Linked DNA regions of Homo sapiens: region 1 is linked to region 2. Evidence: fine-mapped expression QTL. Tissue or cell type: macrophages. Region 2 holds a variant in brackets; the other region holds the start of a gene. All regions are shown on one strand. Distances are between the middles of the regions.

The links. PIP is the estimated chance that this variant, and not a neighbour inherited with it, causes the effect.
Region 1: SOX13 starts here. The variant in region 2 is the best candidate, but not a certain one, in a credible set for the expression of SOX13 in macrophages (Nedelec 2016, PIP 0.83).

The regions. Positions count from the first base shown.
Region 1 is chr1:204,070,994-204,075,117 of GRCh38, reverse strand. SOX13 (SRY-box transcription factor 13) reads right to left here and starts at 2,003. Exons shown (of 14, transcript NM_005686.3): 1 at 1,407-2,003. RefSeq lists an enhancer at 632-1,324.
Region 2 is chr1:204,103,729-204,107,984 of GRCh38, reverse strand. All of the region lies in intron 1 of SOX13 (SRY-box transcription factor 13), which reads right to left. Among named protein-coding and RNA genes, the nearest start is that of SOX13, 33 kb to the right of the region's middle. RefSeq lists an enhancer at 1-779. The variant G/A (reference allele first, on the strand shown) is at 1,810.

The DNA of each region.
Region 1 (4,124 bases), 33 kb after region 2:
CCGGCATGTCGTGATCCTTTGGGGGATACTGGTTTGGAAGGCATGAACTCCGGGAGGTAGAGACCCACCTACTTGGACTGCTGAGAGCCAAGTACAGCCTAGTGGTCAAGAGCCAGCAGCATCGTCTCTGGCCGTCTTTGGCCAGACCCCTTCACCAGCGCCAGCGCCAGCGCCAGCGCCGAGGCGTCCTGCCCGGAAATTCCCAGAGAGTCAAAGCAAACTTCCCAGGAAAACTCTTCGGCTTCCTCCAAGCCTCTGTCACCGAGGCGGCTGCCAAGAGCGCCAGCGGAGTCTTTGCAGCTGCCGCGGGCCCTCCAGGGCGGGAGCCGCCGCTCCAGCGCTCGGGGTCCTCCCGGAAAGGTCCAGGGCTGAAGTTCAAAATTCACTTCCCGCCCAGGCCCGGCTCACCGCCCCGCCCGGTACTGTCCGGCAACCCCCACGTCTCTTGTCCTCTCCAGCTCCAGTTAAGTCCTGGAGCGCCTCCAGCCTGAAGACCCATGCGGGCAGCTGAGCGAATCCCGCGGGCGATCCCTGCGCGCCTGGGGACGGGAAGCAGCCAGAGCCGGCGCACACACACAACCTTGTGTGTGCGTGTGTGTTTACGTACGGAACGCGCGGGGTGGGAAAACAATGGCGAGCCGCTGGGAACTGAACGACTACCCGCTCCGCATCTCCCTACCCCTAGGCGCGATCAGCGTTTGCAGCGGAATCGGGATGAAAAGGCTCACCTACGATATCCCAGGGCGGGAGGTGGGGGTAGCAAGAAGCAGCCTGCGGTGGGGGTGGGGGTGGGACAGGAGCAGCCGGAGCAGAAAACAAACAGGATGCCGCGCTGGTCTGGTCCGCTGGGGAACGACCCTGAAACCGTGGCAAGGGGAGCGCGTCTGTCCCCCAGCACCCCACGCAACCATGGTGGAGGAGCTCTGCGCCTCGTCGCAGGCACCTGAGCCCCACGCAGGACGCGCGCAGGTCGCTTCGGCTTCCCGCTGAGAAATCCTTAAACTAGGCGCATAGTCGGGCTGATGAGAAAGACCTAGTCCTCTGCGGTCGGCGAGGAGCGGGTTGGGGGTGCACCCTAAGCTCGACCCGCGTGGTGAACGCGCGCGCGCGCGCGCGTACACACACACACACACACACACACAAACACACACACAGCCACGCACTGCCTTAGAGGCTGCCATCCCTCTCCACAAGGACCCAAGTCGGCCAGGGAGGAGCCGCCACTGCCCAGCGTTGTTGGGGGTAGGTGAGGGTCCGTCTCTCCTCGAAAAACTTTGCACAGGGTGGAAACTCGCAGGGAAGAGAGCCGGTGGGTGCCCAGAAACGTAGGGGCGCAAGTGTCAAACTTCAGAGAGCTGGGGAAATGGGCGCGACGGCGCGATCATGGCGGGGAGGGGTGCACTTACTACTCAGCCAGGCGCCGGGCTCGGGGCTCGGGGCTCGCGGCTCCGCGCTCCTGCTCCTCCTCCGTGCGGTCCTCGCGGCTGGCAGCCTAGGCTTCCCGCTCACATGCCCCCGCGACGCGGCGGGCGGGCCGGGTTGGGGAGGCTGGGCTGGGAGGGGGCACGCCCCCCGCCGTCGGCCGGGGAGTCGCTGCGGACCCACGGCCACCCTGGGTCCGCGCCCCACGGGGCCCGCCGTCCCGGGCGGCGAGCTTGGTTCCGGCCGGGCGGCGCCCTCTCCGCCGAGCCAGGCCGCTCTCTGCCCTCTGCCCTCTGCCCTGGGCTTGCGGCCGTCTCCCTGCCTTCCGCGGTCCTGCTCTGCGACTCGTCGGACGCGCAGCCGGCCCGCCCTCCCTGCTCTTCGGCTCTCACGCTCTCCGGCTCCAACCTCAGCGCCTCGGCTCGATTCCGAGTCAGGGCCTACGAGGCTGACCGCTGAGCTCTGGGCTCAGACCTGGGCTCGCCGGTTCTGGGCCCGGGTTCCAGGACCCGTGCTCACACAGTTCAGTTCCAAGCCGGGACTGGAGAAGGGCGCTCGCGGCTCGCTGCTGCGAGGCGACTGGACAGCCTAGAGGAGAAAGAGGGAGGGAGACCGAGAGCGCGCAGGGGGAGGAGGGAGGGAGGGTGGGGACTTGCAGAAGAAGGGAGGGACAGAGAGTTTCCTCCTCCTCCCTGCAGCCGGGTCCATCCAGGCATCAACAGCTGGAAACCTCTGTTGGAAAGGGGAAAGCTAAGGTTTACGGGCGGCGGGGAAGGGTGGGGGTGGAGTGAGGGGGTGTAGAGAAGAGAAGAAAGAAGGATTCTGCCCGCTCCCACTGCCCAGGTATGAGGGTCGCTACAGAGAATCTTCACTCCTTAAAGCAAGACCTAAGAAGTTATTGGTCCAGCTCCAAGCCTCCCAACCCCTCCAAACAGATAGCCTGGACTCGGGTTTTTTAAAAACCCCATTTCTCCGGACTTCCCTTAAGAACCTGATCTCTGCCGGGCGCGGTGGCTCACGCCTGTAATCCCAGCACTTTGGGAGGCCGACGGGGGCGGATCACGAGGTCAGGAGATGGAGACAATCCTGGCTAACACGGTGAAACCCCGTCTCTACTAAAAATACAAAAAATTAGCCGGGCGTGGTGGCGCGCCTGTAACCCCCTACTCGGGAGGCTGAGGCAGGAGAATCGCTTGAACCCGGGAGTGGGAGGTTGCAGTGGGCCGAGATCGCGCCATTGCACTCACTCCTGCCTGGGCGACAGGGCGAGACTCCGTCTCAAAAAAAACAAAACCTGATCTCACCTGTAGCTAGACGGATTCCTGATATCTCCAACCACTCCCTAATCCTGTCATTTGCAGCCTCTCAAATAAATCTTATTTTCTCCTGTCCCATTATATGGGAGGGTGGGGGAGAATGGAGAGTTGGTTTCCTTTCATTCAACGTATTTATCAAATGTCTACATATGACCGGGCGCAGTGGCTCACGCCTGTAATCCCAGCACTTTGGGAGGCCAAGGCAGCAGATCACCTGAGGTTGGGAGTTCGAGACCAGCCTGGCCAACATGGTGAAAACCCCTCTCTACTAAAAATACAAAAATTAGCCGGGTGTGGTGGTGCATGCCTGTAATTCCAACTACTCAAGAGGCTGAGGCAGAAGAATTGCTTGAACCCAGGAGGCAGAGGTTGCAGTGAGTGGAGATCGCACCACTGCACTCTAGCCTGGGTGACAGAGTAAGACTCTGTCTCAAAAAAAAAAAAAAAAAAAAGTCTACCTATGCCTGGCTTACCGGGGTGCTGGGGACACGAAGACAAATGAGACGGTGTCCTGCCCTTTCTGGATTCTGATTTTGTAAAGGAATGGGTGAATATACCATTGCAGTGAAGTGGAGAGGGCTAAGATAGGGCAGGCAAATGGGCACAGGGCCACCAAAGACACTGGGATATGGGGACTGGAACTTCTTGGGGGAGGTGGCATCTGAAATGGGTCTTGGAAGGACCTGTGGGTGTAGGGCAGATTAAAGGAGTGACAATCATGGACCTACTAATAAGTCTATGCCCACAGTGTGGGTGGCCAGCATGTGTTCAAAGGTGATGGTCAGCAAGGCTCTGAAGGCCTTCTAAGGGCTCATCCTTGCCCACTGCTTTGCCTGGCTAACTCCTTTTATTCATCTTTTAGGTCTCAGCCTAGACATCAACTTTCCCTGAAGCCTTTCTTGATGGCCATATCTGGGCCAGGTGCCCCATCTGTGGGCTCTGGAAAAACCCCATTTGTAAATAATATGGTAACCATTCATTTGTCTGTCTCCGCCCTGGACTGTAAGCTCCACAAGGGCAGGGATGTATCTCTCCAGTGTGCCTAGCCAGAGATTGGGAAAGAGCAGGCCCTTCATAAATACTTATTGATCAATACTTGTTGATGGAAGGAAATGGGGAGCCACTGAAGGATTCTAAGCAAGGTCTCAGATGGCATCAATCTAGCTGGAGGTAGGAAGGAGGCCAGTGACCAGACAATGGCAGTGGCCAGGGTAAAAATGATGCAGGCCTGAGCTAAGCTGGGAGTAGGGGGAATGGAAAGGAGAAAACAGGTGGGTGTAAGAGAGTGGGAGAAGCCAACATTAAAGGCTTGATGTTTGGATAACTATGGATGAAGCCATCCTAGAAATCATGAAAGGGTTACCCAAATTGCCGGGCGCGGTGGCT
Region 2 (4,256 bases):
GGCCTCTCAGTGGCCTACCCTGGCCTCCAGCACAAAGACAATGGCTCCTGGTGACCAGCCAAGCCAGCTTAGAGGTGTCAGTCTGTTCACTAGGGCTGGGTGCCCACCAGATAACCCTGCCCAGACAAGGGCCCTTCCATCCTCACAGGTGTCTGGCTCAACGGCAGGTGCTGGGCACTGGCCCTTAGTTGGTATCCTCTGGGCCCACTTGTCCATGAAAAGGCAACAGCCCAGGCACAATGCCACCCCGCCCCCAATGGAGAGCAACTCTGGGTCTCACCTTTGGGGGAGAGGGTCCCTGGGTACCTCTTTTACCTCCCTCTCCCCCTCCCCAAGCACAGGCCTGCTTGAGAAGAGCAGCTGCTTTCCCTGCCCTGTCTGGTCTTGAGGGAACCAAGCCCCAGCCTGCCATGGCCCAGAGAGACGCAGGTGTCTCTGTGAAGAGCATCAGTACCAGGCTCCAGACCCTAACCATCCCAGGGAGGGGAGCGACGGTCCCATGATCAACTAGATAAGGGAGGAAAGGCAGTGAGATGGAAAGAGAGGGGTCATTATGTGGTCACTGCTCTGTCACTCTGCAGCTGGGGGTCTGCACAGTTTGCTTCACCCCTGCAAGCTGTGTCTATAAAACAAGGGTCCTGGAGGGAGTCAGGGGACAACTTGGAAGACCCGCAGGGTTTGAATCCAACAACCTGGGTTTAAATTCCTGCCCTGCCACAGGCTGACTTGTATGAACCTAGTCAAATTAATTAACCTCCCTTAGCCTGTCTCCTCATCCATACAATGGGTACAATAACCCATGTCTCACTGGTGTCCATGAAGATCAGATAATACAGGGTGAATATCTATTCTGTAAGTTGTGCGCAGTCCAGGATGCTCTGAGAGTCAAGTGGTTGAGAGAAAAGCCTCTAGGGTCAGACAGACTTGGGTACATTTGAATCCCAACTCTGACCAATCATTGCTGTGCAACCTTGGGCAAGTAACTTAACTTCTCTGAGCCCATTTCCTCCTCAGTAAAATAGGAATAAGAAACTCAACATCAAGAGGTGAATCTCCTGTTAACAACACCAGACCCTATCAGAGTGCCTATTTTACATTCTCATGGCACTTTGAACTTGACCTTAAAAGTATTTATCACAATTGGTAATGATACCTTTACACGCTTAATTTATTTTGGAGTCGCTGGGCGCGATGGCTCACGGCTGTAATCCCAGCACTTTGGGAAGCCAAGGTGGGCAGATCGCCTGAGGTCAGGAGTTTGAGACCAGCTTGACCAACATGGTGAAACCCTGACTCCAGTAAAAACACAAAATTAGTCAGGTGTGTAATCCCAGCTACTTGGGAGGCTGAGGCAGGAGAATTGCTTGAACCTGGGAAGTGGAAGTTGCAGTCAGTTGAGATCACGCCTCTGCACTCCAGCCTGGGCAACAACAGCGAAAACTCCTTCTCAAAAAAAAAAAAAAAAAATTTATTTTGGAGTCACCCAGTAGCCAAAAATATACCTGTTTCTGCTCATCACTGTAGCTCCAGAGCCTAGCACAGTGCCTGAAACACAGTAAGTGCTCGATAAATATTCTTAGAATGACAAGAGAGTGACAGAGTTCAGCAGCACAGCACAAAGCAGGTCTGGATGCTTAACAGGTGATGGATACTGTTAGGACTATTAGACAGCTCCTGCTCTCTCAGGTTTTTCTCCCACACCCAATTATCCTCTGCTGCCTCTTCCTTGGGTCTAAGCTCTTCCTATGAGTTACCTAAATACCCCCAGCAGCAAAGCGATTCCATTTCCTTTTCTTTTTACCTTGGGTC[G/A]GATAAGAAACACTTTCCATACTTTTTGGATTTAAAGACCCCGTTGGAGTCCTCCCTTAAGTCTCCCTTTAGACTTTCCAGAAACTAAAATAATCCCTCAAGTTCCTTTACTCCTTTGTTACACAGCATGCTCCTTGCTTCAGTCATTTTCCATGTGGCTCCGCAGGAGGTTTTAAGGTCAGTAACCTCAAACTCCACTGTCCCAAAATGCCCAGAAGCCAAAGAACGCTGGGTCCACAGGATACAGGAGTTACTGGGCTCCCTCAGTTTCCACCCTAGTCTGATGCCTTGGTACTGGTCAGAGGCCACAAGTCCACAGGGTAGCCCGTCAGCCCCTCGCTTGGATGGAAGTGCTCCTGCGTGCCCAGTTTCCTCTCTTGCCCAACCTCAACACATTTTATAAACAGAGAAACTGAGGTCAGGAGATGTTGAGTTCACGCAGCTTTTGGGGCAGCACTGCTTCAAGACTGTATAGAATGGCCGGACTCATATCTGTAATCCCAGCACTTTGGGAGGCTGAGGCGGGTTGATCACCTGAGGTCAGGGGTTCAAGACCAGCCTGGCCAACATGGTAAAACCCCATCTCCACTAAAAATACAAAAATTAGCCAGGCATGGTGGTGCATACCTGTAATCCCAGCTACTCAGGAGGCTGAGGCAGGAGAATCGCTCAAACCCAGGAGGCGGAGGTTGCAGTGAGCCAAGATTGCACTGCTGCACTCCAGCCTGGGTGACTGAGGGAGACTCTGTCTCAAAAAAAAAAGAGATTATACAGAGTCAGAGGCCTTCAGCCAGCTGGGGCGCTAAGCGGCATCTCTGCTCTGCCCTCCCTTCCTTCTCAGGAACCCACCTCACAATCCCTCTTCCATTCTTCTTCCTCTGTGGTCTTATCTCACCCAAGTGAGCATCCTTAAGAAGTGAAGACCTCTAAGGAGAGGGCTCCAGCCATCTTCGCCCTTGACATGCAGAGCCTTGAGTCTCAGCTTGTGCCTACCAGGCCCCGAGGCCCCCAAATCCAGCACCTGAGACAAGGTATAGAGAGGCACCCGCCTCCATGGAGGGACAGTGGCTCAAAGCATGGCGCTTATATGACAAAGCCCGCTGCAGGTGCCGATCCTCTTCCTCTCTCCTCCCCACAACCAGCCCTGTCACGGCCCCTCTGAACCCCACCAACCCACAGGCGCACACAAACCTAGCCCCTTTCTGCCCAAAACAAATCACCAGCCACTTCCTCTTCTAACCAGTCAACAACTGACCCTGTTGGATTGGAATCAAAGGAGTTTTTACTGTCAGTCCTTCCTCCCTCCACAACGACAGCCTTCCCCCACCCTACAAAAAATATCTAGATGAAGATAAAGATAGAGATAAATTCCAGTCATCGTAGCATGACGGGTGACTCAGACCCTGGGGTACAGGAAGCCTGAACAGACAGGCAGACCCTCTGAGAGGGCCAATGGCTACACTTCCCCGCTGGGCACACACTAATCCCCCTCCACTGCTGGCTCCCACTCCCAAGCTTGCTCTGAGTGGGTGGTGCCAAGGGGCATCACCAGGGAAAGAGATCCATGCAGCAGGGGTGGGGCAGGGCTTGAGTCCCAGGGGAATGCCACTTCCTCTGAAAGCCCCCAGAGAGCTGAGAACCTCAGGCTGCCCTAAACAATAGGCCAAGGCGTGGGTGCCCAGAACAGTGCCCCGGTGCCACATCCTGCCATTCTTCTCACAGACCACACCCTGCCACCCTTCCTGGCTACACCCGATCCTATCTCTAATGTTTACTCAGAGCTGGGAGCTGGACTGGCTGCAGGCTTGGGACAAAGCTTTCCTGCGAGTCCCTCTCACCCTTTCCAGCCTCTGTGAGCCCTGGGGGGTATCAGATCCAGGGCACGGCCGGTCTGGTCTAGCCCAGCTCAGGGGGGCCACAGCCAACACTCCCTCGGCTGTTTCCAGGCTGGTCAGGGTGGCATTCACCTGGTAGAGTGGCCAACATCAGACAGAGGCTGGGTCAACTCCCAAGCATGGGAGAAGAGGCACTTCCCCACAGCACCTCAGGTACAGAATCACAGTCCAGCCTGAGCTTCTGTGGCTGCCGGGACTCAGCTGACCCTGGCCCAAGGGCACAAAGGAAAACAGTGGCCAGGGAGAGACTGTAGCTGTGATGTTCCCACCTGGTCCTCAGGCCTCAGAGGCACCTGAGTCTTCTCCCAACCCAGTGAGTGGGTCGAGAAAGAGACAGATGGGACTGCTTGAAAGCGCCATTGAGGCTCCCAGTGTGATGTGTGCCTCCAGAAGGTCCCAAACCGAGAAGAGGTCAACAGTGTCTCTAGGAGGCCCTTCTCTGGAGGCCTTCCTGCCTCTAGAACCCAAGCCTGTCTCCAGGTTCTCCTGCACCCCAACAGTGCTAGAAGGCAGGGGTAGGCCTCATCCTTGTTTCCCAATGGCAAGGCCAAG